Linked DNA regions of Homo sapiens. The protein of the gene in region 1 interacts with the protein of each later gene in a pairwise test. Each region holds a gene or a part of one and is shown in the gene's direction. Other genes may lie near its edges. The genes, in order: CINP, CFAP161, BTBD2 and SP2.

Evidence for each region.
Region 2: the proteins of CINP (region 1) and CFAP161 interact in binary tests that used the Homo sapiens proteins (3 or more experiments, as listed by UniProt).
Region 3: the proteins of CINP (region 1) and BTBD2 interact in binary tests that used the Homo sapiens proteins (3 or more experiments, as listed by UniProt).
Region 4: the proteins of CINP (region 1) and SP2 interact in binary tests that used the Homo sapiens proteins (3 or more experiments, as listed by UniProt).

The regions. Positions count from the first base shown.
Region 1 is NC_000014.9:102,359,890-102,367,192, reverse strand, and holds the start of CINP (cyclin-dependent kinase 2-interacting protein), read left to right. Parts: upstream 1-4,302; 5' UTR 4,303-4,341; coding exon 4,342-4,348; intron 4,349-7,303. UniProt on the Homo sapiens protein: Component of the DNA replication complex, which interacts with two kinases, CDK2 and CDC7, thereby providing a functional and physical link between CDK2 and CDC7 during firing of the origins of replication.
Region 2 is NC_000015.10:81,137,261-81,144,286, forward strand, and holds part of CFAP161 (cilia- and flagella-associated protein 161), read left to right. Parts: intron 1-790; coding exon 791-875; intron 876-6,401; coding exon 6,402-6,560; intron 6,561-7,026. UniProt on the Homo sapiens protein: Microtubule inner protein (MIP) part of the dynein-decorated doublet microtubules (DMTs) in cilia axoneme, which is required for motile cilia beating.
Region 3 is NC_000019.10:1,984,937-1,991,729, reverse strand, and holds the end of BTBD2 (BTB/POZ domain-containing protein 2), read left to right. Parts: intron 1-907; coding exon 908-1,013; intron 1,014-1,359; exon of another isoform or gene 1,360-1,528; coding exon 1,529-1,726; exon of another isoform or gene 1,727-2,772; intron 2,773-3,235; exon of another isoform or gene 3,236-4,037; coding exon 4,038-4,230; intron 4,231-4,476; coding exon 4,477-4,564; intron 4,565-4,753; coding exon 4,754-4,900; intron 4,901-5,080; coding exon 5,081-5,242; 3' UTR 5,243-6,282; downstream 6,283-6,793.
Region 4 is NC_000017.11:47,913,236-47,920,261, forward strand, and holds part of SP2 (transcription factor Sp2), read left to right. Parts: intron 1-1,490; exon of another isoform or gene 1,491-1,626; intron 1,627-2,076; coding exon 2,077-2,153; intron 2,154-2,920; coding exon 2,921-3,895; intron 3,896-5,216; exon of another isoform or gene 5,217-5,336; intron 5,337-7,026. UniProt on the Homo sapiens protein: Binds to GC box promoters elements and selectively activates mRNA synthesis from genes that contain functional recognition sites.

The DNA.
Region 1 (7,303 bases):
TACCCATTCTACTCAAAACTCCTCACTGGTTGCCCAGTGCTCTAAGAATAAAAACCAAATGCCCCGTGTGGTCTAAGCCCTTTGCAGCTCCCCTGTCACCTCTCTACCCGTCTCCACTTGTCCTCCAAGTTCTAGCTCCACTGACCCACTCTGTCCCACTCAGGTGTCATAATTATTTCCTCTATGCAGAATAAATGATCTCACTCCATTTATCTGGCTTCTTCTCAACTGTGGGGTCTCAGCTTAAATATCACCACCACAGAAAGGCCTTCTCTGACCAGATCACTCAAGAGTACCCAACTGTCCCTTCTTTCCTCTATCATATGTGCTTCATAATCCTCATTACAACCTCTAATTGCTTTATTTGCTAAACCATTTAAAAATCATCTCTCCTACAAGAATGTAAGCAACATGAATTCTCTCTTGCTTACCAAGGTAAATCCTAGTATCTAATAATAGCTTTGGCACAGAGTAGATGCTCAGTAAAGATTTGTTAACTTCAGGTCTTACTGCAAAACAATAGTCTCAATCCAATTTTTAAAATTGGGCTGGGCATGATGGCTCACGCCTGTAATCCCAGCACTTTGGGAGGCCGAGGTGGGAGGATTGCTTGAGGCCAGGAGTTCGAGACCAGTCTGGCCAACATGGCGAAACCCATCTCTACTAAAAAATACAAAAATTAGCCAGGTGTGGTGGCGCACACCTGTAATCCCAGCTACTTGGGAGGCTGAGGCAGGAGAATCACTTGAACCTGGGAGGTGGAGGCTGCAGTGAACCAAGATCGTGCCACTGCACTCCAGCCTGGGTGACAGAGTGATATTTCATCTCAAAAATAAATAAATAAATAAAAATATAATGAATAATGCTTCCTTAGTCATGACTATTTCAGTTAAAAAAATACAAAACACCACCCTATGGCATCCTTCAAGTTACGATGCTTCCTTTCCCCACTAGCCCTGTCAATCTCATAACCCTGGAAGGTGGCAGCTAGCCTTCACTGCTGACTACTAACACCCAACTGCCACCCAGATGGATGATTTCTCAAACTGGAGCTAGGACTAATATAGAGTCTAAGTCATCCACTTCGCTGTACAATAACCATGTTATCAGAGTGCTCTGGGTACACTAATGGTTTCAGGATTCTCTCCAAAATCCCTAGGAAGCAACAATTTGTATCCCTATTGTAGAATCTATGTTTGAAATCTGGCTACGACATCTATTAATTATTTGAGTATTAAATTATTAAGGAGGAACGTAATGAGACTGAGGCAGTCATTTATCTTCCAGACAAAATTTTGTCACTTCCTTGCTCCCATCCCCATTGGCTACCCAATGGTCACAAGCTAAAGCCTAACACAAGCATGGAAATTAGACACTATGACAAAACAGTCTATATCTAACTTCATCTCAGGCCACTCTTCCATCCACACACTGTGCACTCCCTACCCTTTAGCAATCACCCCTCTACACGCTTCTTCTCTCAGCCCTGGGCAACCACTGATCTCCTCTCTGTCTACAGTTCGCCTATTCTGGAGATTTCATCAAAATTGAATCATATAATATGTGGTATTTTGTGTCTGGTTGCTTTCACTTAGCCTAATGTTCTCAAGGTTCCTCCATGTTGTAGCACAAATCAGTACTTCGTTCCTTTTTATTGCTGAACAGCCTTCCATTGTGTAGACAGGCCACGTTTTGTTTGTGCATCCATCAGCTTTCCATCACAGTCCCTGCACACACCATAACCTGTATGTCTCTGCAGAACAAAGTCCCTTTCCACTCTTCCCTATTCCCCCACATGTGCCCTGTAAGAACTAGTCCTCCGCCACCAGGAAGCCTTCATAAATTCCCTCAGATACTTGGTTGGTCTTTCTCTGCTTTCACAGAACTCCATGATGGCAGTTATCGCACAGCACCATCATTATCTGTTTTCTCTCCCCTTCAATGGACTCTTTCTCATCTTCACCTATGTTCTTCTAGTCTGTATACTTTGTGGTGCTTTAAAAGACCAATAAAGAGTATGGTACAATCAATGCTCAATACACGTTTGTTGAATGAATCTCTCTCTCAAAGCACTGTGCTAGATTCACCCAAGTATGACAGCCCTAAATATAAAATAGTGGCAAAAAGTCAATAGAACTCTTATGTCCAGGTCCAAAGAATACATTCATTTTAAATTGAACATGCATCTTGAGTAACAGCTCCCTTCTACCTTAGCAATTCGCAAAGCCATCAACTACTCCCTTCTAATTTTACTGATCTCTCTGTGCATTACTGAATCTAGAAATCTCTTCGTGCTTGACACCAAAGCTTTTCATTATAACCCTTTCCTGATCTATTCCTCATCTTCCCAAGTTCAATCAACTGCCTCTGCCTGATGCCTGTTTCCTTCCTTTTCTTCCCACTAAGTTCCAGTAGCCATTTTTTTCAACTCCTACAGCGGCTAATATGAAATGAAATTCTCCCCAAACTTAAGTGTAACTTCTTTAAGAAAAAATTGGAAAAAAAAATCCAGTAGATGCCAGTCTTCTATTGAAAAAGACACGTGGGTATAATATAGCTGATGCCTAACAAAAGCTACTTCCTAGTCACTCCTTCAGAAGAGGGTTATCCTCATTCCATCTTCCCCACCACTGGTTTTCCAAGGCAGTCCTGAAAATTCAATTTGTGTGTCCCCTACACCTGCACTTAGTTCTCCCTTTTAAAGTTCATGGGCCAGACCATGATCTTTCTGAGGCAGTGACCTCAGGAAGGGTCTGTCTGGTTCACCACAGCATCCCTAGAGCCAGCCTGGCACAGTGCTGGCACACGATGGCCAAATAACCACCAATATGGGACGTAAGTCAGGTTAACAACAACAACAACAAAAATAAGGTCAGAGGTTTATCAAGGTACATTATAGCTGGGTGTGAGAAAACACAAAGTCCTGCAGCCTAAAAGACCAGGAATCGCTGGTGATCACAAGGAGCTACAGTGGCTTCATTCCCAGATTCTACCTATGCCTGGGATTTGCGTTTTGAGATTTCCCAGAACTCTGTCTACAAGACCTTGGCTGCAAGGAGGCAGTCCACAAGTGCAACTGGTCACTCCAATAGATGAGAAAAGGATGCACCCAGGCTGGTATCCCACATTCTGCCAACACATGGAACATAAGTCACAGAACAGAATAAAATTCCTGAATCCCAATAAGAGAGGAAGAAAAAAGTGCAGGGAAGAGAAATGGAGGTAGAGAAGGAGAAACTAAAGTCATGAGAAGTCAGAGACATATCAGAAGGGACTAGAGGGCGAGAACGCAGGCTAGCACAGATGACAGCAGGGGCTCCCCTTTACTGAAATGTACAGCGGCAGGCACCGTGCTTAACTTTACATGCACTGACCCATTTAATCCTCTTACCAAGCCAGAGGTAGAAACTATTCTCATCTCCATTCCACTGGTGATGAAACTGGAGCGGAGTGAGGTAGGGCACTTGCCCCAGCACAGAGCTAGGAAGGGGCCGCTGGGACCTGCCCGGCTCTGACTCCAGGACACCCCATCCTTTAACACTTACTACCTATTCTGCCTCCCATGCCTTCAAATAGGATTGGGAAAGGAGTCATTCACTTATCCACTCATCGAACACTGAACACCAACTGGATGAGTGTCAAGGCCTGGGGCCAGGCGCCGGTGGGCGGATGTAAGGGACGCGGGCTGCGAGTGGGGGACAGAACACGACGTCAATCTTAAGGCGAAGGAGCAGAGCCCGCGGCCAGACCGGCAGCCGGGATGCAGGGTGGGGCCGGGGGCCGAGGGCGCGGGACGCGCAGCGGAGGCCTGAGGAGGGGCGGGCGGCCCCTGTTCCCCGCTGCGGACCGCCGGATTCTGCGGGCGGCGAGCCAGGCGCTCCGTGTGTTGTGGCATTTAGTGTCCGCCACTCCGCGCGGGCGAGACCGCGGGCGAGGGAGACGGGGCGGACGGGCATGGAGACCCTGCGGGGCTGAGGCAAGGGAAGAGTGGCCCGGGGGAGGCCGAGGAGGGGCTCGGGGCCAGGCGTCGGGGGCGTCGGGGGCGTCGGGGCCGCTTGCGGCGTCGCCGGACTCACCTCCCGCGGCAGCCCCTCCGGACTCGTCGGCCCCGCCGGGCCGGAGGAGGCGGGATGGACTCCGGGCCGCGGGGGCTGCCGGGAGCCTGTTCCCTGGGCAACGGGGCCGGCACCGGGGCCAGCACCGAAGAGCAGCAGCTGGCTCCGCCGGGGGCTAGAGCGGCAGAGCCACAAGTGGCAGCGGGCGGGGCGGACGTGACGCAAATGCGTTTCCGGTGGGGTGGGCGGGGCTTCGCGTCTCCTTCTACGGATATCTGTGGACCTTATGGAAGGTGCGTGAGATCGGTTCCTTTCCCGGGGTGGGGTGGCTGTGAATGTTACTGCTTAGGCCGCAGGTTGGACCAGAAGCTCAGGAGCTCCCCGGATTACATGAGGTTAAATGGAGGTCCTCTGTCTTACCCCAGCCTAGCCCGCAGGCCCCTCGCAGCCTCTGCGAGCTGCTCGGGAGACAGTTTTGCCGAGCCTCCGTTTTTTCACATGTGCAGTGACAGATGAACGGGACGATATACGCAAATGAGTGTCAGCAGATCCGACATCCAAATTGTAATTATTGTCACTATAAATTAGTACTAACAGAGTTCACTGGGTACCAAGCCTTGCATGCTCATCTCGTCCAGAAACTCCTCTCTGAACTGCCCTCAGTCAGAACATTCTGCTTGTAATGAAAGCTGGCTTTCGCCTAGTGCTCAGTTTGCTGAGTACTGCTCCAAGCACTTTAAGTGGATCATCTCATTTGAACCTCACAGTGGTCCCATGAAGTAATGTCAACCCCATTTTGCAGATGGGGAATCGAGGCTCAGAGGGGATAAGTAACTTAGCCACTGTGCCCTCACCCTACCCTGTCCTGTGACGCTGATGACTGGTCTGTCTTTACCAGCCCTTGAGTTTCTTGAAGTCAGTTATGTTTTTGGTTCCTAAATATGTGCCCCGTATGAGTCAGGCTGACCATGAATCAGATGTGATCCTGCCCTCAGAATCTCCTGTTGGGGGGAAAACCCTTAGACAATTATAGAACAGGTGGTAAGAGCTATTCCTCCATTTACCTCATTTTATGCAAAGCCTCCTATGTGTGGAAGGTTTGAAAGAGAACGAGACATAGTTCCTACCCTAGTCGAATTTCCAGTTTAGCAGGGAATATAGACATTAAACAAGCAAATACACTCCACTGGTGAATATCATGATAGCAGAATTATAGGGTGTACCACATATCTAGTGGTGAGTCGTAACCCAACCTGGGGGATCCAGGAATACTTCTCTGTGGAAATGACTTTCTAAAAACCTAAATCAGATAATTTCACTGCCCTATCCAGAGCTCATTGCTCACTCCCCATTGTATTAGGTTGGTGCAAAAGTAATGGCAATTTTGGCTGTTAAAAGTAATGGCAAAATCTGTTACTTTTGCACCAAGCTAATACTTAGAAGTCCAAACTTCATTTTTTTATTTTGTTTTGTTTTGTTTTGTTTTGTTTTGTTTTTGAGACGGAGTCTCGCTCTGTCACCCAGGCTGGAGTGCAGTGGCGCGATCTGGGCTCACTGCAAGTTCCGCCTCCCGGGTTCACGCCATTCTCCTGCCTCAGCCTCCTGAGTAGCTGGGACTACAGGCGCCCGCCACCACGCCCGGCTGATTTTTTGTATTTTTTTAGTAGAGATGAGGTTTCACTGTGTTAGCCAGGATGGTCTCGATCTCCTGACCTCGTGATCCGCCCGCCTTGGCCTCCTGAAGTGCTGGGATTACAGGCGTGAGCCACTGCCCTCGGTCCAACTTCTTATCTTGGCCTATTAGGTTCTAGTTGTCTGATCACCTACTCACGCACTAGTCCTTTTCTGTCTATTTCATTCCAGCACACTGGTTTTTTTGTTTGCTTGTTTGTTTTGTTTTGTTTTCTGTTTTTTGAACTCACCAACCTCATTATCATAATTAGGGCACATACTACTGACCTACCCTATTTCTGGCTTTTCATCATTCAAATCTCAGCCTAAACGACACCTTCTCAGGGGATCACACTAACACAAGACCCTGTTTTATTTTCCACACACACTTAATCATGATCTGAACTGATCGTGGTCATTTGTTTATTATCTGCCTCCCCTTTGGAAAGTAAGTTCCATGAAAACGGTCCTGGTCCGTCTCATTCAATCACTTCATTCCCCCATGCCTGGCGTATTGTAGGCAGTAAGCAAATATTTGTTGTTTAAGTAAAGAATGAATGATAAATCAAGATGATATTTTAAAGTGAGGATACTAAGTATGAGGCAGGGGAGTGGGGACACACACAGATAGGAAAAATATTCCAGGTCAAAGTCAGAACTTGTACAGAGCCAGCTCTGATGCACAGAGGGCAAGTGGGAAAGGGTAGAAGCTGAAGTGGTGGGCAGAGCTTGGATAGTAGAGGCCCTTGAGCTAACAGGTGAGATACTGGGTTTTTGCCTTGTGCGAGGCCTCACAGCTTCACATATATTATCTAATCTCAGCAATCCTATGAAATAGATACTATTTTTATTCCCATTTTACAGATGAAAATGTTGAGGCTCTGAAAGGTACATTAAGTTGCCCAAGATCTCACAGCTGGCGAGCTGGGGTTCAGACGCAGGCAGTGTGGTCTTCTGACTTGAGGCATCAAACCATCCAGCTGTTGTGTGTCCTGGATTCCTCAAGAGGACTTTATCCTGTGGGCAGTGAGAAGCCTTTGTGGGGTTCAAAGTAGAGAAGGCAAGAGGGCACAGGAGGGTTCGGGGAGAACAAACAACCTGAGTTGGCTCTTGGTGGTCTGGGGGTTGCTTCCTACAGGCAGTGGGATCCGGGTGCATCTTGGAGGATGGGCATCGTGAGCCTGAGGAAGGAAGGAGCTTTCCTGCAGAGAGAACACGTGTAAAGGCCTGCAGGCACCTCAGCTTTTCAAGAGCTGCCAGTAGTTCATTTTCGCTGGATATTGACGGGGGGCCAAGGTGTGGGTTGATGTACGTGATGATGTGGAGGGGTAGCTAGGTCTGGAAGGATTTTGGACTTCCTCCTGATTACCAAGAAGGGCAGTGGCAGCATCGTGATCAACTCTGCATCTCTGTTGTCTCAGTGTCTTGAAATGATTAGCACTCATGGGCCACGCTACTCTGAGCAAATTTAAAGTATCAGAGTGCCTGAGACTAGATAGTGGAAGTACTCGGGAGTCAGGGCTAGATTATCCTGTAGGGAAGGGAACGTGAGCCATTGAAGAGTTTTAGCAGACAGT
Region 2 (7,026 bases), on another chromosome or scaffold:
ATTACTAATTCGTATGACAGCAATGTAAGCATTGCAAGAATATATGGACCCAGGCAAGGTACAGTGGCTCATGCCTGTAATCCCAATACTTTGGGAAGTCAAGGCAGGCAGATCACCTGAGGTCTGGAGTTCGAGACCAGCCTGGCCAACATGTCGAAACCCCATCTCTACAAAAAATACAAAAAATTAGCTGGGCGTGGTGGCAGGCTCCTGTAATTCCAGCTACTTGTGTCACTGAAGCATGAGAATCACTTGAACCTGGGAGGTGGAGGTTGCAGTGAGCCAAGATTGCACCACTGAACTCCAGCCTGGGGGAAAAAAAAGAATATATAGACAGTTCTTCAAGTTCTAATTTAGATTTCCTTTGAATACATATGTTAAGACAAGTAAAAATTGATCACAACCTCTGTTATCCTGAAGGATTAAGAGGGAACCGTATTAAATGTCTACAAATGTGTTACCTTGGTTCTCTCTGAACATGTCAATGCACTTGACCAGAATTCCTTAGTATACATTAGCAAGATGTGCTTAGTTTACTCTAACCAGAGGCTCACAAAGTGGGGATGCTTTGTGTGCTAGCTATGGTGCAGGGCAGGGAGTAGGGTGCTAGCTGGATTTTAAGACCAAAAGAAAACACCTTTTATTTAATTACCTAATTCAGTTACAGTATGTGAATATAAATTATCAAAAAACTGATTATAAACAAAATTGCATGCATAAAAAATAGAGTCATAGAATGATTCTAATACAGAGAGTTTACATTTACATTATACTTATTGTCCACTGACAGTGTACACAGAGATGCCACTGGTCAAGTCCTTAGATATGGGCAGGACTTTTGCCTGGGGATAACAGGAGGATTTGACAACAAAATGGTGAGTTATCACTTTGCATATCTACTTTGGATCAGTCATTTCTGTTGCCCAAAATGGGATCATAACTATCTACTGAAGTGGACAGAGAACTCCAGAGTCATGGGCTCCACCTCTGACTTCACTATGGTGTCAGCTTGCAGCTTTTCACAGGCAGTTTTGGGCCAAGCCAGTCTTTCCTTTTAACTTCCCAAATTACAAAAACTACACCCTTAAAACCTAAACAGTAAGGGAGGAAAACCATTTCACAATGCAGCTGGCAAAAAGCAAAAGTTTATACCACTTCCACCTGTAAATTAAATGATTGAATTCATTAATAACCATCTGATACCTGTCAAATGTTGCCAATGCTAGCAAGGCATATTATCTGACAACTTTTTTATTTAAACTTTTGATGATCAGACTTTTGCTTAGTATGGGAGTAGGGACAATATGAGATGCTTAAATTTGCATAAATCAGGGAGCCTTGGGGATTAGGAAGTATAATAGAACCAGATAGATTTGGGTTTGAATTTCAGGTGCGTACCTATGGGATGGGAATTTGGGTAAGTTATTTAATGCTTTTTGAGCCTGTTTCTCATCCATAAGATGGTGAGTATTAATCTACCTTACTACATGCCAGGCAGTGTTGTAAATGCTTCACATATTTCAACTCTCCTAATCCCCCAAACTTGCCTTTGAGGTAGGGACTATTTTACCTTTAATTTACTGATGGAAAAACTGAGGCACCAAGAGGTTAAGTGATTTCTGACTCAAGTCACTCAGTTAGCAAGTAGCAGAGCTAGTACTATATCACATTTTTTATTGAATTAAAAATCCATTTACTATATGATGTAGCGTTATTATTATTATTATTTTTGATACCACTAAGAAAACACAATGCTGCCTGCTGGGTGCAGCGGCTCATGCCTGTAATCTCAGCACTTTGGGAGACCAAGGCAAGAGGATCACTTGAGGCCAGGAGTTGTAGACCAGCTTTGGCAACATAGCGAGACCTCATCTCAACTAAAAATTTTAAAAAAATTGGCCAGGTATGGTGACGCGCTCCTGTAGTCCCACATACTCATGAGGCTGAGGTGGGAGGATTGCTTAAGCCGGAAGGTAGAAACTGTAGAGTTTGCACCACTGTACTCCAGCCTGGGTGACAGAAAGAGACCCTGTGTCAAAAAATAAAAATAAAAATAAAAAATAAAAAGAAGAAGAAACGATGCTACCAATTAAACTTTGACACCCCACAGATGGTAAGTTGCAGCCTGATAAATATTGACTTACTGAAAAAAGGGAGTAAATTACCATTTCTTAACCAGAGATTAGCACCATTAACATTTTGGTTTATTTTTACTTTCCTGTGTATTTTTTTAAAACTTAGATAAATATACAGATAGGTTATTCTTTCTAAAATAGCATTTTTAAAGCTTTTTAAAATGACGAAATCATTTAATGAGAGCATAAGATATAATTGTGTGGCGGTATCATAATTTACCTAGTCTTTCTTCTACTTTTGGGCAGTTGGGTTTGGTCCAATATTTCTCTTTTATATGTAAAGTTCCAGTGTGCATTTGTGTATAAATGCTTAAATCTTCCCCTCTCAAACTTCAAATTAGGAATTCTACCTTTAGGATAGATTTTTGGGCAATGAATTACTAAGTCAAAGAATATGAACACATTTAAAAGTATTGATACATATAAAGAGTTCTTTTTGTAATGGGGTGTACCAATTTGCACTCTCAGCAACAGTAAGAATGATCATATACTGCTTCATTAATTGTATTAAATATCATAATTTAAAACTTTGCTAATTTGACAAGCAAACAAAATGAAAAGAAAAAATGATATGTAAATGTTGTACTACTTGTAATTTCTCCTATATTTTAAGTTTGTTCTCTTTCCCTTATCTCTTCCTTTCTCTCTCGCTTCTTTTTTCTTTCTCCCTCCCTCTCCTCTCTCCTGCAAATCATCCGTTTTTTGCCTTTGTGTTGATTTGGGTTTATATACCATTGATTACTAAATTTTGTCATATGTGTTGCTAATATTTCCATTTGCTGCTTGGCTTTTAAATTGTAGTTGTTCTAATATTATATTTTTGAGTAAAATGTAATTCCTTCCATTGCTTTTATGTTTTTAAGACTGCTTCAGAGATCTGATAAAAAGAAAAACTAGAATTAGCTTCTAGATGTTTGCAATTTGACTTTTGCTTACATTTATTATTTAATCAACTTGGGATTTATTTTGATAAAGGGTTTTATGTGAACATCTCATTTTGTCCCAGATGACTGGTCAGTTATATCTATTATCCCTTGAATGATTATTCCTTTCTCTACAGGTGCATGACATTTCCCTTAGCATATATTAAATTACTGTATATACTACCCTGTGCTTCTGAGCTTTCTATTTTGATCCATTAAACCCTAGTTGTCTATTTCTTTTTTTTTCCTTTTTTTTTTGAGACAGGGTCTCACTCTGTCACTTAGGCTGGAGTACAGTGTCACGAACATGGTTCACTGCAGCTTCCACCTCCCAGGCTCAAGCAATTTTCCTGCCTCAGCCTCCTGAGTAGCTGGGACCACAGGTGCACACCATTATACCTGGCTAAGTTTTTAAAATTTATTTATTATTTATTTATTTATTTATTTTTGTAGAGACGGAGTTTCGCCATGTTGGCCAGGCTGGTCTTGAACTCCTGAGTTCAAGTGATCCTCCTGCCTCCACCTCCCAAAGTGCTGGGATTACAGGCGTGAGCCACTGCACCCAGCCCAGTTCTCTATTTTTATTCTAGGACTATAGTGTCTTAATTATTAGAGCTTTATGATAGGGCTCATAGCCCTGTGACCTTGACAGCTCATAGGGCTAGTTGCCTCTCATTACACTTCTTTGTCTGAATTATGTTAGGAATTAATTTCTCAGTTAAATATAATGGTTATTTTTTTCAAGTCCTTCTGCCCCTGTGGGGAAAAGATTACTTGGTATTATATTTTGATTGGCATTGTAAAATTAAGTAAATTCACATATTTAGTAACTTTGCCATATTTATTCTTCTGAGATGTCTCTCCATTTATTCTGTCAGCAAAATTTTCTATCACCCAGTAAGATTTTGTGGTTTTCTTTACATGGACTTGACAATGATTTTGTTAAGGGTTTTTCCTTGGTATCTTGTATTTTCAGATGCTATTGTAGAGAGGTCCTTTTGATAGAATAAGGATAGAACATTTGATAGAATAAAGGATAATTTCTCTTATAAAAATATAAGAAGGCTATTGATTTTTATATTCACCTTTGATGAGATCACTTACTCTTATTAATTCTATAGTTTTTTCAGTTGATTTTTTTATGTTTTCTGGGAAGACAGTCATTTAATCTTCAAATGATGACAATTTTCTCTCTTCCTCAATTCTTATACCTCGAATTTTGGTTTCTTGTCTTTGAATTAGCAAACCCTTCTGGGGCATTCATAGAAGCGTTGGTGAAATAGTGGCCTACTGGGTTAGTTCCTGATTTTATTATGGTTTTACTTTAGGTGAACAAGGCAGTTTGTGGTTTGAGACAGATAGTATTTGCCTTTTTTTTTTTTTTAAGTTGGTGTCTCACTCTGTTGCCTAGGCTGGAGGGCAGTGGTGTGATCTCGGCTCACTGCAGCCTCTGCCTCCCGGGTTCAAGCGATTCTCATGCCTCAGCTTCCTGCGTAGCTGGGATTACAGGCACCTGCCACCACACCTGGCTAAGTTTTGTATTTTTAGTAGAGACAGGGTTTCACCATGTTGGCCAGACTCTCTCGAACTCCTGACCTCAAGTGATCCTCCTGCCTGAGTCTCCCAAAGTGCTGGGATTACAGGCATGAGCCACTGTACCTGGCCTTATTTGCCTTTTTAAATTCTGGTTTTCTTGTTGCTCTGAAAGGCACCATCATCCAGGGCCAATGGCGAATCTATCTTGGGCCCATCTCCCTTCCCCACCCACGTCCAGCTGATTACCAGGTCTCTTCCGCTGTTCCTAGGCTCTTTTCTCCCTTCATACTGCACTTTGGCCTGTTTCTCTTGCCCCAGTGCAGCCCCTCAGCAACCCAGGCCCCATTGCTTTGCCCTTTTAGTCTATCCTGACTTCAGACCATACTAGACAGGGTGCTGCCAGGTTGATCTTTTTTTTTTAATTTTCATTTTAATTTTTAAAATTTATTATTATTATTATTTGTTTTTCAGGTTGATCTTTTACAAGCACAGGTCTGGTCACCCCCATCCTCACTGGAGTCAGCAGTGGCTCCCCATTGCCCTTTGAATGAAGTTCTGCCTGTTTGCTGTGGCATTTGAGGCCTTCTGTAATACATCCTCACCCTCTCTGTGTTCACCCCCTCTGGCTATCCAGCCTCCTCCTCAGAGCCTCTTTTGATCCCCCAGGAAAGCACCGTGCTCCTACCTCTGCCTCCCACAGCTCATTGCAAATCTGCTGGACCTCCCTAACCAGAAAGCTGCATGCAGGTGCTTCCCATTTTTGTGCTCAATCACCTCTTCTGCTAGGTGGAGAACCTCATGAGGATAGTAACTCATCTCTGCCTTCCCCATAGTGCCTCACAGCACAGCCTTGCATGGGAAAGGTGCTTATTGGAAACCTGTCAAAATATGCAGAAACTACCTCCACATTCAGGGCGGGGCTGAACCAGTGAAGAACTAGCAAAGGACTAACATTTTGGACTTTTCAGCAGGATGGGGGTTGTTTCCTGGCAAGGTTACAGGCAGCCAGATAGCCGACATAAATTTCCAGCATGGACATCAATTCCAGAGGGGTGTGGGTCACCTTGAAGGCTCACAAATGAATATCAGCTGTGAGGATATTGATTTGAAGAATAATTCATTTCACGTGATGAGTTTAATGCAACATCATTTATATTAAATAAAATATTAGTCCATGGCTGGGCATGGTCGTTCACACCTATAAACCCAGCACTTTGGGAGGCTGAGGTGGGAGGATTGCTTGAGACCAGGAGTTCAAGACCAGCTTGGGAAACAGTGGGATCCTAGCTCTACAACAAATAAAAAAAAATCAGCTGGGCATGGCAGTGTGCACCTGCAGTCCCAGCTACTCGGGAGGCTGAGGTGGGAGGATCACTTGAGCCCAGGAGTTGGAGGCTGCAGTGAACCATGATTGCCACTGCGCTCCAGCCTGGGCAACAGAATGAGACCCTGTCTCAAAACAAAACAAAACAAAACAAAACAAACCCATTGGTCCAGTTCCTATATCCTGAAGGGGAACAGGGGACAGGGAGTAGGAAGGAGAGAGGAAGATTGAGTTTGGTATTCAGAGGAAGGAAAAGTAGTTGGAGATGTGAGTGTGTGTAGGTGTGTGTGTGTGTCTTGGTCTCAGCATGCCAGATGGCATATCTAAGGTAGAGGAAAATTGTGCTTTCTCATACAATCAGTAAGAACAGAGTTTTTGAGAACTGCTTTGAATGTGCTTGCCGTCCAGCCAGTCAATTGCTTCTTTATTCTCCAGCTTTTCACAGAGCTCTGACTTAGTGCATCTGCTTGCTGTCATTTTCAGTTGTATTTGTCAAGTGACCACAGGACCCTCCTGAAATCGTCTAAGAGGTCTTGGCTCCAGGAAGTGTACCTAACAGATGAGGTCTCCCATGTGAACTGCTGGCAGGCTGCCTTCCCTGACCCCCAGTTACGCCTGGAATATGAAGGCTTCCCCGTCCCGGTGAGTGCAGCATCGGGAAGACATGGGTGTCTAGGCTATGAAATGGATGCAATTTATTCCTGTCTATAACACACAGACTTATAGCTCAAATGCCTTATGACTTTCTCTCTCTTTTCTGTCTTTTTTTTTCCATTTATAACACACAGACTTATAGCTCAAATGCCTTATGACTTTCTCTTTCTTTTCTGTCTCTTTTTTTCCATTTATAACACACAGACTTATAGCTCAAATGCCTTATGACTTTCTGTCTCTTTTCCGTTTGTAACACAAGTTTGGGAGGTACTAATCTACCCCATGGCAGCATCCTGCACTAGAGTTTCTCACCTCTGGCTGCACGTTAGAATCGCCTCAGGAACTTTCTAAAAAGCTCAGGCCCTGCCCCTGTCATCAGGATAAGAACCACTGATGTGCGATCATGAGCGTTGTGACACTGCTTCCTTCGCACTGTTTTCGCTAAGGCCTCCGC
Region 3 (6,793 bases), on another chromosome or scaffold:
TCCTGGTCGGGGGTGGAGGGTGGCCAGAGGGGACAGCGGCACTGGGTCCTCCAATGGGCTTTGGGGGTCCGGCATCCTGGAAAGGACCCAGAACCTTCTCCCCCTCCATCCTGGCAGGTCAGATGCAGGGCATCCCGGACTCCCACAGGGAGGGGTTTCTTGTCCGGGTCATCTGGTCGCCTTGCTGGAGAGGCCTCTGCCTGAGCTGAGAGGAGGCTGGAGCTCACTCCCCGGGCTTCATCTTGTGGCTGCCTCAGCCTCCCTGCCCCTAAAACCACTACGAACCCACTTGAGAGGTGTCCTCGGGAGGATGCCCGCAGAAAGGCCTGCCCGGGTCCCTGCTGGCATAGGCCCTTCCAGCACCTTCCACTAACTAAGCCTCTGTTTCCCTAAGAGCACAGGCGTCCTCCAGCTCTGTCACCTGACTGTCAGAAGTCATGTCTGCTGTTTGTCTTGGGATGGAGCTGCCGGGGACACGGCCCCTCCCACCACAAGTGGCCAAGGGCATGTTGTGGTCGGGAAGCTTCACCGGTCGGCCCCGGCCACCTCACCTCTGCCTGCCACTCGGGGTCCTGGGCCCTGCTGCCCCCCGAGTGCAGCTGCAACGCCCCTTTTGCCTAAAGCAGCAGGCCCTGCCGACAGGGACCTGAGCATCTTTTTCTTCCTTCCTTGGCCTCTGAGGTCCTGAGAGGGAACTCCCCAACTCTCCCGCCCCAGTCAGCGGTCACAGGGGAGTCTCTGGGCCCACAACAGGGCCGGCCTGGTGGCTGAGACCCTGGTGGCTCCTGGCCACGCTCAGGAAGGCCCGTGTGGTCAGGGCTGCATTTGAACCGGCCCCGCACTGGGGATCTGCCGAGGGCTGGGTGCTGATGTCCCCACCGCGCCCCCCGTCGATGTCTCTTGCCAGGCGCGACTCTTCGATGAACCGCAGCTGGCCAGCCTGTGCCTGGAGAACATCGACAAAAACACTGCAGACGCCATCACCGCGGAGGGCTTCACCGACATTGACCTGGGTAAGGGCCCAGGAGCCCAGGTGTGGGAATCCCAGCGGGGCCTCGGCGGGAGGGTCCGGGGATTGACAGTGGGAGCTTTGGGCCTGGGGGAGTTGCACAGGTGAGCTGGGGCCTCACCACTTGCAGCAGGTCAGGAGTTTGGGTCCTAGCACAGCCCCACGGGAGTCCGGGGCCTTGGCCAGGAGGCCACAGGCCAGAGCCCACCATCCCAGCTGATGGTGACCATCTCGTCCTCCGATGGTCCATGGCTTTGACTTTGCTGTTGAACAGCTTTTGTCAAAGCTACTCAAGTCTGTCCTTGTGGCTTAAAAACAACCACAGCCGAGGAAAATGAAGGGGCGTGGTCTTGTGTTGATAAAGCTTTATTTATAAACACACTCACAGGGCCAGATTTGGGCCACGGGCCATAGTTGCCAGCCCGGCTTTAACTGCTGGTCCTCACGTTAGTCTCACTGCCTCCTGCAGGGTGGGCATGTGGGTGTCGTGTTCACGCAGCCCCTTCCTCCACCCCACAGACACGCTGGTGGCTGTCCTGGAGCGCGACACACTGGGCATCCGTGAGGTGCGGCTGTTCAATGCCGTTGTCCGCTGGTCCGAGGCCGAGTGTCAGCGGCAGCAGCTGCAGGTGACGCCAGAGAACAGGCGGAAGGTTCTGGGCAAGGCCCTGGGCCTCATTCGCTTCCCGCTCATGACCATCGAGGAGTTCGCTGCAGGTAACAGAGCTCGGGCTCAGGGGCTGGTTTGGGAGGGGAGTGGCACACAGGTGGGCATCTGGGTACCGAGGATAGTGCCCCCGAGTTCACTGCGGAAAGCCTGGCAGATGCCTGGCATATACAGATAGGAAGAAACCTGGCTTGTGAGGACGCGTCCACAGGGCCATCTGTTAGCCCCGGCCCGGCTCTGTCCCCACCGTGCACACTGCCAGACCCCGCCTCTCGTGTCTGTCCAGCTGTTTTGGTGGCATCTTCCCAGGAGGGAAGGGAGTCCCCGTCTCGCGCCCTTGTGCTACCTGCTGGTGCAGGTACCAGTGTCTGTGACGAGCTCAGGAGGGCTCTGACATGGCCGGGGTGGCTGTCATGCGCCCGAGTGGGCCTTGGGGTCCCCTGCTGCAGGGCCTGGGTTCCAGGGTGACGTGAAGGGGCAGCGCTAACGATGCCTCCTGCCCTCGTGGCTGCTCACTGCCTGACGCCATCCAGCTCTGGAGCAAAACAGGCCTGGAACTTTCCAGAAGGGGCTGGGACAGAGCCCTGGGGCTGGTGCACACTCGCCGTCTGGCCTTCCCCAGGTCCACGCGGCCCCCGCTCTTGCTTAGCTGAAGGTCGCCAGATTTAGCAAGAGGGTCTCTGTCGCCCAGGCTGAGTGCGGTGGTACAATCACAGCTCACTGCAGCCTCGACCTCCTGGGCTCAAGTGATCCTCCTGCTTCAGACTCCGGAGTAGCTGGGATCACAGGTGCCACCACCACACAAGGCTTATATTTGTATTTTTTTGTGGGGACAGGGTCTTGCTATGTCACCTGGGCTGGTCATGAACTGGGCTCCAGCCATCCTCCCATCTCGGCCTCACAAAGTGCTGGGATTATGGACATGGGCCACCGAGCCTGGCTAGATACATACTTCTTAAAAATACAACTGTTGATCAGCTGGGTGTGGTGGCTCATGCCTGTAATCCCAGCTACCCGGGAGGCTGAGGCAGGAGAATCACTTGAACCCAGGAGGTGGAGGTTGTGATGAGCCGAGATCGCGCCACTGCACTCCAGCCTGGGCAACAAGAGTGAAACTCCATTTAAAATAAAAAAATATATACAATTGTTGGCCAGGCTGGGTCACTCACTCCTGTAATCCCAGCACTTTGGGAGGCCCAAGATGGGGGGAATCACTTGAGGTCAGGAGTTTGAGACCAGCCTGACCAACAGGGTGAAACCCCGTCTCTACTAAAAATACAAGATTAGCTGGGCATGGTGGCGCATGCCTGTAAACCCAGCTATGCTGGAGGCTGAGGCAGGAGAATTGCTTGAACCCTGGAGACGGATGTTGCGGTGAGCCGAGATTACGCCACTGCACTCTAGCCTGGGGGACAAGAGCGAAACTCCGTCCTGCACTCTAGCCTGGGGGACAAGAGCGAAACTCCGTCTCAAAAAAAAAAAAAATTGTTAACATTGTTTATTGAGTTTTGATACTCAGTCTTCCTGATTCACTTAACCCATAATGGTCTGTTTCTCACCAGTTATTAAACTGTGTCTGCACTGGGCTGGCTTGCAGCTGAGCGATGCGGAGTTGAGCCCACCTTGGTTGATGAGTGATTAGGTCTCAGGCAGGCAGGGCTGCTCTCATTAGAGCAGAGGGTGCTGTGTCCTGGCACTCCTGGGGGTGGATGGTGGACCCCCAATTCTGCCCCTCCTGGCCTCCCCTCCCTACCCAGAGCCCCTTCACATCCCATGCACAGTCCCTCTGCCTGTGACATCTCTGCACCGGGATTAAGAGCCTGGCTCTTGGAGTCTGCCTGGGGTCCGCTAGCCATCACCCCTGGGGGTGTAAGCGCTTGAGAAGGTGTCTGCCTAGGGCCCACCGTGGAGAGGAACCCCCAGACTGCTTCTAGAAGCCAGGGCTGCAGCCTGGGGGGTACAGGCCTAGCAGGGAGCCACAGTGACCCCTCCCAGCCAATGGCCCTGAGAGAACAGGCAGTGGAGCCCCCCGCCCCCACCCACAGTGAAGTGACGGGTGGTCCCTACAGTGGGGCCAGACCCTGAGACATCACCCCTGAGTGAGTGCATCTGTCAGACCCTGAGGCATCGCCCCTGAGTGAGCGTATCTGTCGGCCTCTGGTCTGTGCCCTGGGACCTCTCCCTAAAAGCCCAGGCAGCAGGGGCCATGGCTGGTGGCTAGTCCCCCGGGGAGGGGCTGCCCAGGTCCCTGCACCTTGAAAGTCCGACGCAGACATCTTAGGGGGAAGGAGCGTGTCCTCCCAGGCACTCGGGATCCTGGGGTGCAGCCCGGCCCTCCCCCACACCCTCCCTGTGCTGCAGGTCCCGCACAGTCGGGCATCCTGGTGGACCGCGAGGTGGTCAGCCTCTTCCTGCACTTCACCGTCAACCCCAAGCCACGAGTGGAGTTCATTGACCGGCCCCGCTGCTGCCTGCGTGGGAAGGAGTGCAGCATCAACCGCTTCCAGCAGGTGGAGAGTCGCTGGGGCTACAGCGGGACCAGTGACCGCATCAGGTGGGGCTTGGGGTGCAGGCGGGGGGGTCCGGACATGGGGGTGGAGGACTCGGGGATGACGGAGATGGGGGGCCGGGCATGGGGGTGGAGAACTCAGGGATGATGAAGACGGCGGGGGGGCCGCCGGGCATGGGGGTGGAGGACTCAGGGACGATGGAGGGGACCGGGCATGGGGGTGGGCTCGCCCCAGCTCACCTTAGGCTATCCCTGGGTATCCACGCTGCTGCCTGTCATCTGCCACGGCAGGTTCTCAGTCAACAAGCGCATCTTCGTGGTGGGATTTGGGCTGTATGGATCCATCCACGGGCCCACCGACTACCAAGTGAACATCCAGGTACCAGCCCCAAGCCTCATCCCCAGGCCCCACTCAGGCCCATGTCCTCTCTCCACCTCCATGGAACCCTGGCTGAACCCCCGGCCCTGGTCCCTGTGCTGCCCCCACCCTGGGCAGGTGGGCTGGGCCTCGAGGGGTCCCCGTTGGCCCTCCCCAGGCCTGAGCCTCCCACTTCCCACCTCCCCGCAGATTATTCACACCGATAGCAACACCGTCTTGGGCCAGAACGACACGGGCTTCAGCTGCGACGGCTCAGCCAGCACCTTCCGCGTCATGTTCAAGGAGCCGGTGGAGGTGCTGCCCAACGTCAACTACACGGCCTGTGCCACGCTCAAGGTGCGCCGCCGGGGACAGGGGTCCCTCCGTGGGAGTCTCTGGCCCATCCTGAAGCCACCGGGGCACAGCACACACTCTCCAGAGGCAGCCACCCTGGCCCAGTCGGGGCCTTGCCCTGTCCACACCTGGGGCATCCCAGCCTGGTGGTCCTTGACCTCACTGTACCCCTATTCCCTACAGGGCCCAGACTCCCACTACGGCACCAAAGGCCTGCGCAAGGTGACACACGAGTCGCCCACCACGGGCGCCAAGACCTGCTTCACCTTTTGCTACGCGGCCGGGAACAACAATGGCACATCCGTGGAGGACGGCCAGATCCCCGAGGTCATCTTCTACACCTAGGCTGCCCGACACCGACACCGCCCTCCCTCCGTGGGGATAGCCGCAGCCCCAGGCCATCATCTGCTGCTGGGGCCCCCCCACCACGCGGTGCCAGGCCCAGTGTCCCCCAGGCCGTCTGTCCACTCCATGCCACCTTTCTCAGCATCAGGACGGGGTTGCCCTGTGTTCACCACGAGTGTGGCTGCTGGATCAGGGCAGCCGGGGAGGTGGCCAGGCCAGTGGCCAGGCCCTGTGGAGACAATCCCTCAGGACTAGGGACAGGGCTGTGCCGGCCTGGGCCAGGGCCCACGGACCCGCAGCTCAGGGCGCCTGCCCACGTCGTCTGCCGGCGGTGCGCCGCGGGCGTCCCTCGCGTCTCTTCACTGCACATTGCAATGCATTTGCGATTCCCATTTCTCTGCTAGGAGCCAGCCTGGGTGGCGCTGCTCCCAGAGCCGTGGGTCCCAGACCTTGCGTTCCTTTTGTTCCTGTCCGTTTATCAGGACACGGGCCCCACCTGTCACGTGCCCGAGGCCACCCAAGCCCAGCCTGCGGGGCGTTCCCACTGCCTGGATGCCGGCTTGAGTTCTGCGCACGCAGGATTCAGTGTGGGGACGGCCCCTGCCGGATAGGCCTAGCCCTGGCCCAGGTGGTGAGCGGTTTGCAGTGTCCGTTCTCATCCACCTGATGGGCCCAGATAAAGGCCCCCGCTGTCCAGCCTCCCTGGACGGCCCTCGCGGTCCCTGCAGCCCAAGATGGGACTCAGACCCTGTGCCCCAGAGCTCCCCTGCCGCAGAATGGGGCCCCAGCCGGCCCCGACCGGGTCCAGGAGCACTGCTCGCCTGTACATACTGTTGCCCTAGCCCACCTGGTGCCGTGGGAGCCACCCCCAGGTGCTGGGGGCACAGCCCCTCCCCACTCCGGCCACGCCCCCACCCACCCCGCGTGTTTCTGCCCTGTGACTCCTGGAACCTGCGTCCTCCCCAAAGCCATGGGAGGGGTGTCCTCCTCAGACCATGCCCCCAGATGATTTTTTTAAATAAAGAAACAAATGCACCTGCCTTGAGCGCACACTGCTTTGCTCCCCTTCACTCTCTGCCCTGTCATCCGGGCTGCAGTGGGCGAGGGATGTCGTGCGCCGAGAGGGGCCCTGAACCCCGGGTCTGGTCGCCAGTGCTGCGAGACCCTCCTTAAGTACCCACAGGCCACACTGAAGCCCGGGAGGTCGAGACTGCAGTGAGCAGTGATGCACCACTGCCCTCCCCCCTGGGCAAGAGCAAGACCCTAACTAACTCAACACCTCCCCCCAAACCCAAATGCAATGGACGTGTGTGCCGATTTCCCCGTGGGGAGGCCCTGCTGGCTGCTGGGGGACCGTGGATGTGAGAGATGGAGAGAAAGCAGGGAGTGCCCAGTTGTGGCCTCAGTGGCCAGAGAAGTCAAGCCGTTGGCTGCTGCCTCAGGAGCACACGTGCAGGGCAAGACATCAAGAAACCCGGCAGCAAGGCCGCGTGGTGGCTCACACGTCATTACAGCACCTTGGGAGGCCGGGCGGGTGGATCACCTGAGGTC
Region 4 (7,026 bases), on another chromosome or scaffold:
GAGATGGGGTCTTGCTATGTTGCCCAGGCAGGAGTGTTTTGGCTATTCACAGGTGTGATAATAGGGCACTGCAGCCTCAAATTCCTGGCCTCAAGTGATCCTTCCATCTCAGCCTTCCAAGCAGAATGCATCCTGAGCCTTTTTGTCTCTTTTAGTCTTTAAAGTAATACCCCTCTTATTTCTGTACTTACTGAAATCTGCTTTCCAGAGGTCCAGGATTGAAGTCTGACTCTGCCTGGTGTTCTTTTCCTTAGTGATTTATGCACTTTAAGATGGTATAGATTCTTTCTCCTAAAATTCTCATGACTTTCGTTTTCCTGATACTGTGTTTCTTTCTTTTTAAAAAATTTTTATTAGGGACGGGGTCTAACTGTGTTGCTTAGGCTGGTCTTGAACTCCTGGGTTCAAGCGATCTTCCCACCTCGGCTTCCCAAAGTGTTAGGATTACATGCATGAGCTACTGTACCTAGCCTCTTTTGGATGACTTAAGTGCACAGTAGAGAGTCCCTTCATTACTTCCTCAACCTTATTTTTCTTTATTTAAGAAAAAAAGTACAGTAGAATATATTTATCATGGGAAAATGAAAAAGTACAGAAAACCAAGGTGCAAAATAAGTTTAAGTCAAACAAAACTCAACCGCTAGGAGATAATGGCTTAAGACTTTTTCCTATTTGATTATATTCATATATAGAAATATATACACATTTAAACAAAAATAGAATTTACTCTGTTTTCATTCTCCTTGTTATATCCAGTTAGTCATTAGCTCTACTGAGTCTTGGTTGATGCCTGTGGGGCCGTGCCTATTGTACTATGTAAAAGCGTAAATTCAAGTAAAGAATTGACCCATGAGGCCAGGGATGGTGGCTCACGCCTGTAATCCCAACACTTTGGGAGACTGAGGCAGGTGGATCACCTGAGGTCAGGAGTTTGAGAACAGCCTGACCAACATGGTGAAACCCTGTCTCTACTAAAAATACAAAAATTAGCTGGGCATGGTGGTACATGCCTGTAATCCTAGCTACTCAGGAGGCTGAGACAGGAGAATCACTTGAACCTGGGAGGTGGAGGTTGCAATGAGCCAGGATCGTGCCATTGCACTCCAGCCTGGGCAACAAGAGTGAAACTCCTTCTCAAAAAAAAAAAAAAAGAATTGACCCATGTGCTGTATATGCTGCCTGGGGACAACGGCCTTTGTGGTGAAGGCTGAGCATAAAACACCCAAGACTTGGCAGTGGAGCAGGTGTGTCCTCCTTGTCAGAAATCTTGGCTGAGCGATACTTCCCTCCCAGTTTTGGCATCTGTCTACAGCAGGAGTGAACAGGAGGCTTGAGTTTGAGCTAGAGGATTAGCTGGGGAGCTCCCCCCTGCCCACCATAGAGGAGTTCCAGTTTAGCTATGGAGAGCCAGCAGTGCCCAGCAGAGAGGGCATAGCTGAGTTACAGAAGAGAGTCCTGGTATAATCTTGGTTATTTTTGTGTTATCTCAGACTCTGTGGTGGCTGGAGGGGGCAGTCCAACGACAGCAGGACCAGCTGTCCTCACAGCCTCAGATGGCTGAGTCTGAGGAGAGGAGAGGAGAAAGTAATCTACTGAAATAGATGTAAGGCTATCAACCCAGGGTGGGTAAGTCTGGGGAAAAGTCATTAACTTCCCTTGGAGAAGCAGCAACAAATAGAGGCAAAAAGAAAATCTGGCTGGGTGCAATGGCTTATGTCTGTAATCCCAGCACTTTGGGAAGCCAAGGCGGGTGGATCACCTGAAGACAGGAATTCGAGATCAGTCTGGACAACATTGTGAAACCTCTGTCTCTACTAAAAATACAAAAATTAGCTGGGCATGGTGGCAGCGCCTGTAATCCCAGCTACTCAGAAGGCTGAGGCAGGAGAATTGCTTGAACTTGGAAGGGGGAGGTTGCCGTGAGCCTAGATCATGCCACTACACTCCAGCCTGGGCAACAAGAGCAAAAATTCCGTCTCAAAAAAAAAAAAATAGAAAAAAAGAAAATCTGAGGCAAGTGGGCTTGCGTTCTTTTTGGGCATTTTATACATTACTCCATCTCTTTTCTTCCAACAGATCCACAGACCAGCATGGCTGCCACTGCTGCTGTGAGTCCCAGTGACTACCTGCAGCCTGCCGCCTCCACCACCCAGGCGAGTAGGCAGTGGGCTCCGAGGGCTTGGGGCTGCAGCATCCTGGACAGACTCACCGAAAACACTCTCTCTTCACTGTCTCACTATAAATACCCTAGGTTATGAGACTGGGGAAGGTTCAGTTAGCCACATTTTCTTTACTGAGAAACTATGGCCATTTACCTAAGGTGCCGCAGTTGGGCCAGGGGGAAAAACAAGGATTAAACTCTGTGTTCCTTCCACCAGACCTCACTAAAAAAGGAAAAGGAAAACAGAGGCTTTCTCATTGTCTCGAAAGTGTAGCCCTCCCCAGTCTATAAAGTTACATGTTCCGAGTACTAAAAAGCACTTTACTGAAGTATTTATTCCTCCTGTTGCCCCTCCATTTTTTCCTCCCTCCTTTCCTCAGTTGAGCAATCAGGGACCCCTCAGTCCCTGGGGTGGGCTAACAAACTCCATCTGAGAGCCAAACATGCTTCACTGTCCTTAGAAACAAGGCCAGCGGAGAGTAGGAAGTCAGCTCGTGCTGTTAGTTTACCCTGTCTGTGGGGTGCTGCCAGGGGTTCCTTCCTGAGAAAGACATTGCCCACCTTTTCTCCCTCACTTAATGGAGAAACCAGTAGAGAAGGGGAGACAGCAGCCAAGCAGGGGAGGGTACTGGCAACATGCCTGCCCCGGAGGTGGGGAAGACTGGCGTGGAATGCCGCCAGGAGGAGAGGATCATGGACAGAGGCGGCCGGGCAGCGGGCCTTCCTGTCTCACTCCTTTTCTCTGCTGTTTTTTTGCAGGACTCCCAGCCATCTCCCTTAGCCCTGCTTGCTGCAACATGTAGCAAAATTGGCCCTCCAGCAGTTGAAGCTGCTGTGACACCTCCTGCTCCCCCACAGCCCACACCGCGGAAACTTGTCCCTATCAAACCTGCCCCTCTCCCTCTCAGCCCCGGCAAGAATAGCTTTGGAATCTTGTCCTCCAAAGGAAATATACTTCAGATTCAGGGGTCACAACTGAGCGCCTCCTATCCTGGAGGGCAGCTGGTGTTCGCTATCCAGAATCCCACCATGATCAACAAAGGGACCCGATCAAATGCCAATATCCAGTACCAGGCGGTCCCTCAGATTCAGGCAAGCAATTCCCAAACCATCCAAGTACAGCCCAATCTCACCAACCAGATCCAGATCATCCCTGGCACCAACCAAGCCATCATCACCCCCTCACCGTCCAGTCACAAGCCTGTCCCCATCAAGCCAGCCCCCATCCAGAAGTCGAGTACGACCACCACCCCCGTGCAGAGCGGGGCCAATGTGGTGAAGCTGACAGGTGGGGGCGGCAATGTGACGCTCACTCTGCCCGTCAACAACCTTGTGAACGCCAGTGACACCGGGGCCCCTACTCAGCTCCTCACTGAAAGCCCCCCAACCCCGCTGTCTAAGACTAACAAGAAAGCAAGGAAGAAGAGCCTTCCTGCCTCCCAGCCCCCTGTGGCTGTGGCTGAGCAGGTGGAGACGGTGCTGATCGAGACCACCGCGGACAACATCATCCAGGCAGGAAATAACCTGCTCATTGTTCAGAGCCCTGGTGGGGGCCAGCCAGCTGTGGTCCAGCAGGTCCAGGTGGTGCCCCCCAAGGCCGAGCAGCAGCAGGTGGTACAGATCCCCCAGCAGGCTCTGCGGGTGGTGCAGGCGGCATCTGCCACCCTCCCCACTGTACCCCAGAAGCCCTCCCAGAACTTTCAGATCCAGGCAGCTGAGCCGACACCTACTCAGGTACCACACTCCCTGTACTGTCCTCCTTCTCCTCCTCTGGTTATCTCTTTTTGGCTTGCTTTGAAGATGATGCTGGTCATCTCCCAGCTTGATCTGACCTTGAGAGTCAGTATCTTTTGGGGTGGGCAGTAAGTGGCCGTTTCTACCTGACAAATGGGCTCTCTTTAGTTCATAGGGCCAAGTACTTCTTATCTTTAGAAATTGATGAAACATAGGGATATTTTGGCACCTTTTCCTTATAGGTTGTTTTTTTTCAGGGGATGGTGAGGGGATAGATACATACTTGTTAATAACTTATTTTTGATTATAGAATTACTCAAAACATTAGCAAGAATGAAAACATTCCAGTTCATAGAATTTTATGTAAAGTAAGAAAATTAATGAGAAAAATGCTGATCATTATTAATGACAAGAAAAAAACAGGAAGAGCAGCCTAGCTTTATAGCAGGAATATTTAGGCTAGATTCATCTGGAATGTTTGTTTGTTTTAGGGTGTTTTTTTTTTTTTTGAGATAGGGTCATACTCTGTTGTCCGGGCTGGAGTGCAGTGATGCGGTCACTACAGTCTTAATCTCCTGGGCTCAAGCAATCCTCCCACCTCAGCCTGAGTAGCCAGGACTACAGGTGTATGTCACCATGCCAGGCTGAGCCACTGCTTCCTGCCAAACTGGGATGCTGAATTCAACAAGAATGTTCTTATTTTTGGCATTTATTAATGTGCTCTAATACTCTGGAATCTCTTTGGCTCTGTGAGGCAAGTTTTATTCTTTGTTCATGCCTGCTAAGTGCCAGTAATTGTGCCCATGTTGCAGATGGATAACCCAGAACTCAGATAATTTATGAAGTATCCAAGATCAAATAGGGCATAAATGACAGGAACCAGGAGTCAATTGAGATTTGTAACTTCAGACCCCACACTCTTCCATCTTCCACCTTGACTCTTGTGTCTTATGTGTAGCAGGTGCTACCATTAAAATTGAGGAGTTTTTTTTTTTTTAATATAAAAAACAGTTCCTGCCATCGAGGAATGTATGACCTAGTTGTCTATAGAGGAAGAACCGAATGACTGAGAGTGGGAAGTTGTGTAATTTCCTGGGTGGAGAAGAGAGCCTTTGAATTTGAACTGTGGACATAGAAATCACACAGGAATTCACCCTTCTGGCATATTTAATGTTGCCAGGTATTTTTTATAAGTCATTTATCACAATATCTGTGAATTCCCATGATCAGACCTACCCTACAGGTGATATTTTATGTTGCCAGGTGATTTTTTATAAGTCATCTATCACAAATATCTGTGAATTCCCATGATCAGACCTACCTTACAGGTGAAGAATTGTGGCACCTGCTCAGGAGCACATCCTCGGCATTGCCTCCCCTCCCTTCCATGAGGTCCCATTTCTTGAGGTTGATGGAGACAGGACTAAAACCCAGGTCTTCCCTAAGGAAATAATGATACATATGCAGAAAGATTTAGCTACAGTATTATTTTTTCATGACTACACAGCTTTATAACATCCCAACATGCTGATTATTATACAACTGATACCTTGTTAACTGTATATATCTAGGCTGTTTCCAATCTTACAGCTAAATAAATCCCTGAAAGTGGGTCAAGGACACGTACATTTTTAAAAAATTTGTATTCTATATTAGAGGTTTGCAGTCTGTGACCAACTTTGAAGCCAAATCTAGCCCACCTGCCTGTTTTTGTAAATAAAGTTTAATTGGAGTGCAGACACGTCCATTTGTGTTGCCCTTGCACTACAGTAGTAGCACAGTTAAGTAGCAGAGACAATATGCCCCGCAAAGCTAAAATATTTACTCTCCGGCCCTTTATAAAAAAAGCTTGCTGAACCTTCAGATGCAAATACACACACACACATGCATGCACGCATACACACACACACACAAAATCAGACATAAAATATCAGTGATTTGAAAAAGGGGCACATATCAGAAAACTGGGAATGAGATTTGCATATTTACTAAGAAATGGGCCAGGTGAGGTAGTTTATGCCTGTAATCCCAGCACTTTGGGAGGCTGAGGCTAGAGATTGCTTGAGCCCAGGAATTCAAGACCAGCCTGGGCAAGATAGCAAGACCCCATCTCTACAAAAAAATTAAAAATTAGTGAGGCATGGTGCTACACACCTGTAGTCCCAGCTATTCAGGAGGCTGAGGTGGGAGGATCACTTGAACCCATGAGTTCGAGATTGCAGTGAACTATGATCATTCTACTGCATTTTAGCCTGGGTGACAGAGACCCTGTCTCTATTTAAAAAAAAAAAATTTTTTTTAAAGAGATGAGATGTTTGTTAGCTTTTAAGTGAGAAGAAGCACAGTCATAAATAATCCAGGAATTAAAAATTACCCAAATCAAAATCACAACAGGATTTTTTTTTTACAAAGAACTTTTTTCCTTTTGACTCATTTGAGTGTAAATTGCCACCATGATCCCCCTTGTCATTTCTGAACGCTTTAATTCCTACACACAAGAACATTCTACATTACCACAATACAATCGTCAAACCCAGGAAATTAGCAGTGAAACACACTGCTAATTCCAAGACCCCACTGTGTTTTCACCACTTGCCCCACTAATTCCTTTGTGGCAAAAGGATCTGATCCAATATTACACATTACGTTTAGTTGTCTCCTTAGTCTCTTTTGATCTGAAACACTTTGTCATTCCTTTTTTTTTTTTTTTTTTTTTTCTGTTTTTTTGAGACAGGGTCTCGTTCTGTCACCAGGCTGGAGTGCAGTGGCAATCTTGGCTCACTGCAACCTCCAACTCCTGGGTTCAAGCGATTCTCCTGTTTCAGCCTCCCAAGTTGCTGGGATTACAGGCGCGTGCCACCACGCCCGGCTAATTTTTTTTGTATTTTTAGTAGAGACAGGGTTTCACCGTGTTGGCCAGGATGACTTCCTCATTCTTTACTTGACCATCATGACCTTGACACTTTTGAAGGCTAAAGGTCAACTTTGGCCATTGGCAGCTCTTTCAGGTCGGCTCTTTTTTTCTCTTTGGCCATTGGCAGCTCTTTTCAGGTCGGCTCTCTGCAACCTCCGCCTCCCGGGTTCAAGCGATTCTCCTGCCTCAGCCTCCCGAATAGCTGGGATTACAGATA